Regions from separate parts of the Homo sapiens genome. Here region 2 is linked to region 1. Evidence: fine-mapped expression QTL. A gene starts in region 1. The other region holds a variant in brackets. All regions are shown on one strand. Distances are from middle to middle.

Region 1 (4,390 bases):
ATTTGCACTGTTGCCTTTTCTTTTGTCCCTGTTTTTGTATAAAAATGACAATACTCTCCGTCGGACTGTATTTTAGCCCAAAAAACAAAACTAAACCCCTTTTTCTTTGATACTCCAGGTTCATAGAGCCAAGCCTATCAATTTTTTTCTTGTTCTTTGTTTTTTGGTTGGGGAAAGGGTTTTCTAAGAAATACTGAATTTTCCTTACCTAAAAGTAGTCCAGGTTAAACAAGTCAAACTTTAAATGTAATACCCATTGCTTTAAAATATTCTAGCAAAGAAAATAAGGTCTGGAAGATGGTGGTAGGGGATAGATGAAACAAGACTGAAAAGTGTTGACAATTTATGAAGTTCTGGAAATTCATTCTGCTCTTCTGTTTGACATTTTCCACAGTAAGGAGTTTTTAAAAATACTAGCTTTCTCTTATTTTTTACTCTAACAACTTCCTTTTGCTTGTCTTTGACAAGTCCTGGCTCAGGAGGAGAAAAGCTGCACAACCAGTCTTTGTGTATGTGTGTGCAAATCTCTGTGTGTTCACTTGTGAATACAGTTTCATTAGGGGAGGGTTCACCTTTGTTATGTATTATCAGTACATAATAAATATATATGTTTTCTTTTATTTTTTTAGAGACAGGGTTTCACTCTGTCACCCAGGCTGGAGTTCAGTGGTGGCAATCATAGCTTACCACAGCCTCTACCTTCTGGGCTGAAGCAATCGGCCTCCCAAGTAGCTGGGACTACAGGCCCACGCCATCACACCCAGCTTTATTTATTTTTTGTATAGACGGGGTCTCCCTATGTTGCCCAGGCTGGTCTGGAACTCTTGGGCTCCAGTGATCCTCTCACTTCAGCCTCCCAAAGCGCTGGGATTATAGGCATGAGCCACCACGCCAGGCCTATATTTCATTTTAAAACAACGAAGTTCTCCTTCCTCACATACCTCAAATTCGGGGGGTACCAAATCTCTGATATTATCCCAACGATTTTTTTATAACCAAGGTATCACAATTCCTTTCAGAAAGGGTTCTTTAGCCACTCACACCACGGGTTTCGGTGGCACAGCGCAGGGCAGCACAGACTTGTGCTACAGCTCTCGGCCCTACCCAGAGCAGGATGGCCCTAACCTAATTTTTTTGTTTGTTTGTTTGGAGATGGCGTCTCACTCTGTCGCCCAGGCTGCAGTGCGGTGGCACGATCTTGGCTCACTGCAACCTCCGCCTCCTGGGTTCAAGCGATTCTCCTGCCTCAGCCTCCTGAGTAGCTGGGATTACGGGCACCCGTCACCACACCCGGCTAATTTTTGTGTTTTTAGTAGAGACACAGTTTCACCATGTTGGCCAGGCTGGTCTTGAACTGCTGACCTCAGGTGATCCGCCCTACCTCGGCCTACTAAAGTGCTGGGATTACAGGCGGGAGCCACCGCGTCCGACCTAATTTTTTGTATTTTAGTAGAGACGGGATTTCACCGTGTTGCCTAGGTTGGTCTCGAACTCCTGACCTCAGGCAGTCCACCCGCCTCTGCCTGCCAAAGTGCTAGGATTACAAGAATGAGTCACTACGAATGAGTCACTGCGCCAGGCCCCTAGCCTCACTTACTTTGGGCCTCAGTTTCCACCGCCTGAAAAAAGAGCAGTTCGATTGCACCCACTTCCCCGGGCCCCGCCCAAACCATGGGCAGCCCCGCCCAAACCATGGGCAGCCCCGCCCAAACCATGGGCAGCCCCGCCCAAACCATGGGCAGCCCCGCCCAAACCATGGGCAGCCCCGCCCAAACCATGGGCAGCCCCGCCCAAACCATGGGCAGCCCCGCCCAAACCATGGGCAGCCCCGCCCAAACCATGGGCAGCCCCGCCCAAACCATGGGCAGCCCCGCCCAAACCATGGGCAGCCCCGCCCAAGGGCGGAGACTGGGCGGAGCGTCGCGCTCTCCTCCACCTCCTTCCGACTCTCGGAGGCCCCCCACCCAGTGCCCGCGGCGCATGTGCCAGGCACACCCCACCCCCAACCGGCCCTGGATTCCACTTCCGTTCCACCATCGCTGCTGGAGCAGCTGCCTTCAGGCCCTGCGCCGCCTCCGGAGTCCATGGCCGGCACGCGCTGGGTACTCGGGGCGCTGCTCCGGGGCTGCGGCTGTAACTGCAGCAGCTGCCGGCGCACCGGCGCCGCCTGCCTGCCCTTCTACTCCGCCGCTGGCTCTATCCCGTCGGGCGTCTCGGGCCGCCGCCGCCTGCTGCTGCTGCTCGGGGCCGCCGCGGCCGCTGCCTCCCAGACGCGTGGCCTCCAGACCGGGCCTGTGCCTCCCGGGAGGCTGGCGGGGCCTCCCGCTGTGGCCACCTCTGCCGCGGCCGCGGCCGCCGCGTCCTACTCTGCCCTCCGTGCCTCTCTGCTGCCGCAGTCGCTGGCGGCGGCGGCCGCCGTCCCGACGCGCAGCTACAGCCAGGTACGTGGGCGCCGTGAGGGACCTGGCGCGAGATCCCTCCCGGGCCGCGTGCACGCGCCCCCGCGCCCCTCCGTCCCTCCGTGTGCGCCTCGCGGGCACGCCCGGGGATCCGCGACACTCGCCGCACACCCGCCCCCGTCCACCCTGTGCTCCTATTGGGCCCTGGAACAAGGGAAGCTCTCCCAGGCGTCGGGTCTTCTGCTTGTTTTGTTCTCGCCTCGAGTCTCTGGTCGGTTGGGCAGTGTAAGTGTGGCTGGGGTGAATGTTGAGGCCTTGTTCCCCGCCTGGCCCATGGTAGGTTTCGTGAGGCTGCTGACGCCCCCACCTCGCATCTTCTTGCTTTCCGCCGGCTGGTTGTGAAGTTGCGAGGCCCGAGCCCGCCGGAGGGTTGGGAGTTTCCGTGCAGCCCGAGCGCTAGGCCTGGGCGGCCCTCGGCGCCTCTCGGTCGGCCGCTGCTGGGAAGGTGCGCGCACACAGTTGCGTGGGCTGGCTTGTAGGGAAGGAGCCTGTCCCCATCGCGCCGTTCCCTCTCCTGTCCCCAGGGAAAGACGAGCTGTCCCGGTTTACTGAAGGTCACCTCTGCAACTCCACTCATACAGAAGGTCTTTAAGGACTGTGTGTCGCCTCGTCTGGGAAAGCAGTTTGGAGATTTAGCTGTTGGGGGGAGGGGGTGAATGGGAGGGAGCGTTGAGGGTTGAGGACACAACTTGGGGTCCCAGGAATGAATTTGCAATGTTTTCCTTTCCATTTTTTCTTTATTTTTTTAGAAAAGTCGGTGTGTAGTTAGATTGCAAATATTTTGTGCTTTGTAGATGAACCTTTCTCTTCTTGGTACGTGGCATCTGGGAAGTGTCTGCACACTTTTTAACTACCCAGCCCCTGATTCCTTAGGTCATATTTATCTTAATTCAATTTGTGCTTCTCCTTTAACTTAGGGAGACTGGGAGGCTAATCAGCATGGCTGCTGTCTGCCAGTGGCTGAGCTAATTGATTTGAATCCTGGCCCAATACTTTACGCTGCCTTTTTCTGTAAAAGCTTGTGATGCTTATGGAATTATGGAAAAATGGGGAAAGTTGTCTACAAAAACCACAACAAAACCATCTCCAGTAAACCTTTGTGAGCTAGCTTCTCTCTTTTTTTTTCTATGAAATTGACTGCGGTGATATCTGTAGAGCATCTACTATGTGTTAGACACTGCTTACATTTATTCCTTAAAACTAAACATTAAGCCTTTTTTTTTTTTTTTTTTTGGAGACCGAGTCTCGCTCTGTCGCCCAGGCTGGAGTGCAGTGGAATGATCTCGGCTCACTGCAAGCTCCGCCTTCCGGGTTCACGCCATTCTCCTGCTTCAGCCTCCCGAGTAGCTGGGACTACAGGCGCCCGCCACTGCGCCCAGCTAATTTTTTGTATTTTTAGTAGAGACGGGGTTTCACCGTGGTCTCGATCTCCTGACCTCGTGATCCGCCCGCCTCTGCCTCCCAAAGTGCTGGGATTACAGGCGTGAGCCACCGCGCCCGGCCTAACATTAAGCCTTAATGAAAATTATAGATAGGGCTGGGCGCGGCACTTTGGGAGGCTGCGGCGGGTGGATCACCTGAGGTCAGGAGTTCGATAGCAGGCTAACCAACATGGTGAAACTCCGTGTCTACTAAAAAAATGCAAAAAAATTAGCCGGGCGGGGTGGCGGGCGCCTGTAATCCCAGCTACCCGGGAGGCTGAGGCAGGAGAATCCTTTGAACCCGGGGAGGTTGCAGTGAGCCGAGATTGTGCCATTATACTCTAGTCTGGGCGACAAGAGCGAAACTCCGTCTCAAGAAAAAAGAAAAGAAAAGAAAATGACAGATAGTAGAAAGATATCTCTGTCCTTAGTCCGGTAGAGTGCAAGTCTTTTTTTTTTTTTTTTTTTGAGACGGAGTCTTGCTCTGTTGCCCATGCTGGAGTGAAATGC
Region 2 (4,390 bases), 43 kb before region 1:
AAACCCTGCCTCTACTAAAAATACAAAAAATTAGCTGGGCATGATGGTGCATGCCTGTAGTCCCAGCTACTTGGGAGGCTGAAGCAGTAGAATTGCTTTAACCTGGGAGCCGGAGGTTGCAGTGAGCTGAGATCTTGCCACTGTAGTCCAGCCTAGGTGACAGAGCAAGACCTTGTCTCAAAAAAAAAAAAAAAAAATGAATTTGACTTGATGCATTCAGTTCATTCCATGCATATTTACTGAGTGTTTACCATGTGCCCAGCACTCTACAGATGTTAGATAAATATTAGTGAGCAAAACTGACATCTGTCTATGGTATGCATCCTCACTCTATATTCAGCTACTATTCTAAATTTATAGCCCAAGGTCATCAAAAAAACACTGAAATTTTTATAGCAATGTGAAACTTCCCAAATATAAGCTCTTAAAAAGTAAGGGATTGGCCGGGCGCGGTGGCTCATGCCTGTAATCCCAGCACTTTGGGAAGCCGAGGCAGGCGGATCACGAGGTCAGGAGATCCAGATCATCCTGGCTAATACGGTGAAACCCCATCTCTACTAAAAATACAAAAAATTAGCCAGGTATGGTGGCGGGCGCCTGTAGTCCCAGCTACTTGGGAGGCTGAGGCAGGAGAATTGCTTGAACCTGGGAGGCGGAGGTTGCAGTGAGCCAAGATCGCACCACTGCACTCCAGCCTAGGTGACAGAGTGAAACTCCAACTCAAAAAAAAAAAAAAGTAAGGTTACCAGGCCAGGCACTGTGGCTCATGCCTGTAATCCCAACACTTTGGGAGGCCAAGTCAGAAGGACTGCTTGAGCACAGGAGTTCAAGACCAGCCTGGGCAACAAAGTGAAACCCTGTCTCTACAAAAAATTCAAAAATTAGCCAAGCATGGTGGTGTGTGCCTGTGGTCCCAGTGACATGGGAGGCTGAGTCAGGAGAATTGCTTAAGCCCAGGAGGTCGAGGCTGCAGTGAGCTGTGTTCACACTGCTGCACTCCAGCCTGAGCCACAGAGTAAGACGCTGTGTCAAAAAAAAAAAAAAGAAAACAAATGTAAGGGGCCAAAGATAACTATTGGATGCTAGTGACGAAATAAATTTTAAAATAGGCATAATACAATGCTGCTCTGCTGTGACTTAAATTTCATTTTGTTATTTATTATTATTATTTGAGATGGAGTTTTGCTCTTGTTGCCCAGACTGGAGTACAATGGTGCAATCTTGGCTCAACTGTAACCTCTGCCTCCCAGGTTCAAGCAATTCTCCTGCTTCAGCCTCCTGAGTAGCTGGGATTACAGGCACGTGCCACCACGCCTGGCTAATTTTTTGTATTTTTAGTAGAGACGGGGTTTCAACATGTTGGTCAGGCTGGTCTTGAACTCCTGACCTCAGGTGATCCACCCACCTTGGTGTCCCAAAGTGCTGAGATTACAGCCATTGAGCCACTGCACCTGGTTGCTGTGCCTTAAATTTCATACAGTGTTGTATTAGTTTCCAATTGCTGCTGTAACAAATTACTATAAACTTGGTGACTTAAGTTTATTATCTTACAATTCTGGAGGTCAGAAATCCAAAATGAGTTTAACTGGGCTAAAATCAAGGTGTCATCAGGCTGTGTTTCTTCTGGTGCCTCTACAAGATGACCTGAAAGTTTCCTTGCATTTTCTAACTTCTGGAGGCTACTTGCATTCCTTGGCTCATGGCTCCGTTCCTCCTTCTTCAAGGTAAAACACCACTTTGTTAACAGTGATGATATTATGGAATGATTTTCATTTTCTTCTTTTAGCATTTTCTGATGGTGCATGTACTCCTTTTACAGCATGAAAAAAGAAAATAACAAGAAGCTTCTCTTCAGAAAATAGTTTAGAGTTCTGTGCCAGTGGACATAGTGCACATAGTACAGATCAGCAGGGATCAAGGCTACTGAGATCTACTTGGAACTAGATCATGACCAATTTTGTAGCCTAAGTAATAATCTTAGCTTGATCTGATGAGCAGTGAAGAACAATGGTGTTTTTTAAAGCATTAGGTTACCAGGTTTGTAATTTAAAAAGAAGCTGTAATGATAGACTGTATTAAAATAAGCTTTACTACTACTTTGTAATCACCCCATTTAGATTTGCGAAGTATAATTTAATTGTCTCTATTGTTAGTTTAGCCCATTTCTTTATACCA[T/C]CAGCACTGATATTCAACTTTTAATTCATTTTTCTTGGCAGCATTTTTATTTATTTATTTTTCGAGATGAGGTCTCACTGTGTTGCCCCGGCTGGTCTCGAACTGCGGGGCTCAAGCAATCCTCCTGTCTCAGGCTCTTGAGAAGCTGAGACTACAGGCATGCCCAGCTAATTCTCTTTTCTATGCTATGAAGATAAAACATTTATTTTAGACCCTCATGGATAAATGGCTGCATTATTCATTTTTCGCTTAAGACATAAACACAGATGACAAAAGATATCTGGTTGGTAATATAACACTGCTATTTCCAGTGAACCAGGTGTTTTTCAGTGGAAAATTGAGGTGGGAAAAATTTCAGCAAACTTTCATTATTTGTTAGTCCTCAATACACCATCATATGATATAGTATCTTCTTGACATTTGGCCAGGGTAAAACAGTAGTACTTCAGTAAGTTTGATTCTGAGGGACAGAATCTAGGGAACAGATTTTCAGAAACACTATCCTAGGGTCAGCCGAAGTTGCTGGGGAAGGAACTCATAGTGTGGGAATTCTGCCACCATACCTACTTTGACACATGGACTACCAAGGGAAAACTCCTTATCTATCTATTTTATAGTAAGTATTTATTAGGTTTTGTGTGAGATTAATTTGAAGGAAAAGACCTCGAGTTTAAAATTTTGGAACATACTATACTAGTCCTTTTTATTTTTTATTTTTTTGTAGAGACAAGGGTCTTGCCATGTTGACTAGGTTGGTCTCAAATTCCTGAGCCCAAGCCAACCACCCACCTCAGCCTCCCAAAGTGCTGGGATTACAAGTGTGACACTGTGCCTAGCCCTTACACTAGCCCATTTTTTTTTTAGGGTGGCATTAGAACCTAAAGCTCCCTACTCAGTTTATTATGAAATAATGGGTAGACTAGTTGTCTAGCTTAGCTCTTCATTTATCCCCTTTGTTTTGTAATGGATCCAGTTGGCTGGGCAGATAAGAATTTAAAAGTTGGTTTCAAGAGCACATTAGGTATTTCAAATATTTAGGGACTAAAGGAAATTAATCAGTGTTCCTTAATAATTATCAACCTGTCTGAAAAAAATGTTGTATTTCAGAAACGGCTTGCTTTGGTTGGGCTCAGTGACTCATGACTGTAATCCCAACACTTTGGGAGGCCAAGGTGGACAGATCATTTGAGGTCAAGAGTTCAAGACCAGCCTGGCCAACATGGTGAAACCCCATCTCTACTAAAAATGCAAAACTTAGTTGGGCATTGTGGCACGAACCTGTAATCCCAGCTACTCAGGAGGCTAAGCCAGGAGAATCGCTTGAACCTGGGAGGCAGAGGTTGCAGTGAACCGAGATTGTGCCATTGCACTCCAGTCTGGGTGACAGAGTGAGACTCCATCTCAAAAAAAAAAAAAAAAAAAAAGTGGCTTGCTTCTACTACTGAAAGCAATTTACCATCATGATATAATCCAACAAACACAAATTATTATAGTTACTTTAAACAAAATATATGGTTATAATTTCTGGCTTTTAAAATTACTCAAAACACTTTCTTGAATATAAATAACAAAGTACAAGCAAAACAACAACTGGATTTATTTCTCATTCCTGACAAAAGTAATCAAGTCTTCTTATCAAACGGTACACTGAAAGGAGAAAAGCAGATTATTTACTTTTCACTATATTAACAGAATTCTATTCTCTTGCTCGAGAGTGTATTTTGTAATAAGCTCTTTTTAGTATAAGAATTTTACTTTTTAAAAAACTGACCAGTGACTACCAAGCAATAGATGAGTTCTGTCTACTCAGCATTAACCTTCCAAAAAATTCATCTTAATTTTACTTTACTAAAACGTTCTAATAAGTCAATGAAAAATCAGGCCTACATTTTGTATGAAATATGAGACTGTCTGTAAGTTTCTATTTAACTGCATGAAAGAAACACCATTTTATTTTTTTTAAGTGGAATGGCATAACTAAAGTCAAGGTTGCTTTCACACAAAACACACATTGTATTAACGGAGCATATCAACATTGCTGCAACTCGAACTCTACCTCTTATTCAGGTCTAAGCTAATGAAACTAAATTTCAAATAGAAAATATGATAGTTCTAAAAATATCTACTCACAGCAACCAGTTAACAAAGAAGGATCGGGCAAGATCATGCATTGGAATTGAGCAAATATGCATCTTTTCAATTTTTTTGAGATGAT

Alleles and levels. Positions count from the first base shown, and alleles are read on the strand shown. Sizes are in standard deviations (SD) of each study's normalised expression.
As copies of C replace T in region 2, the expression in fetal neocortex of the gene that starts at base 2,022 in region 1 goes up (large effect, 1.0 SD a copy in Walker 2019).

Evidence for each region. PIP is the estimated chance that this variant, and not a neighbour inherited with it, causes the effect. A credible set is the group of variants that fine-mapping cannot tell apart.
Region 2: its variant is the best candidate, but not a certain one, in a credible set for the expression of GRSF1 in fetal neocortex (Walker 2019, PIP 0.54).

The regions. Positions count from the first base shown.
Region 1 is chr4:70,837,522-70,841,911 of GRCh38, reverse strand. It overlaps GRSF1 (G-rich RNA sequence binding factor 1), which reads left to right and starts at 2,022. Exons shown (of 10, transcript NM_002092.4): 1 at 2,022-2,441. The coding sequence starts at 2,085. LOC124900710 (a long non-coding RNA gene) reads right to left here and starts at 2,920. Exons shown (of 3, transcript XR_007058131.1): 1 at 2,767-2,920. RefSeq lists silencers at 1,755-2,004, 2,065-2,614 and enhancers at 2,011-2,664, 2,665-3,319.
Region 2 is chr4:70,880,527-70,884,916 of GRCh38, reverse strand. No RefSeq gene overlaps it. Among named protein-coding and RNA genes, the nearest start is that of MOB1B, 20 kb to the left of the region's middle. The variant T/C (reference allele first, on the strand shown) is at 2,176.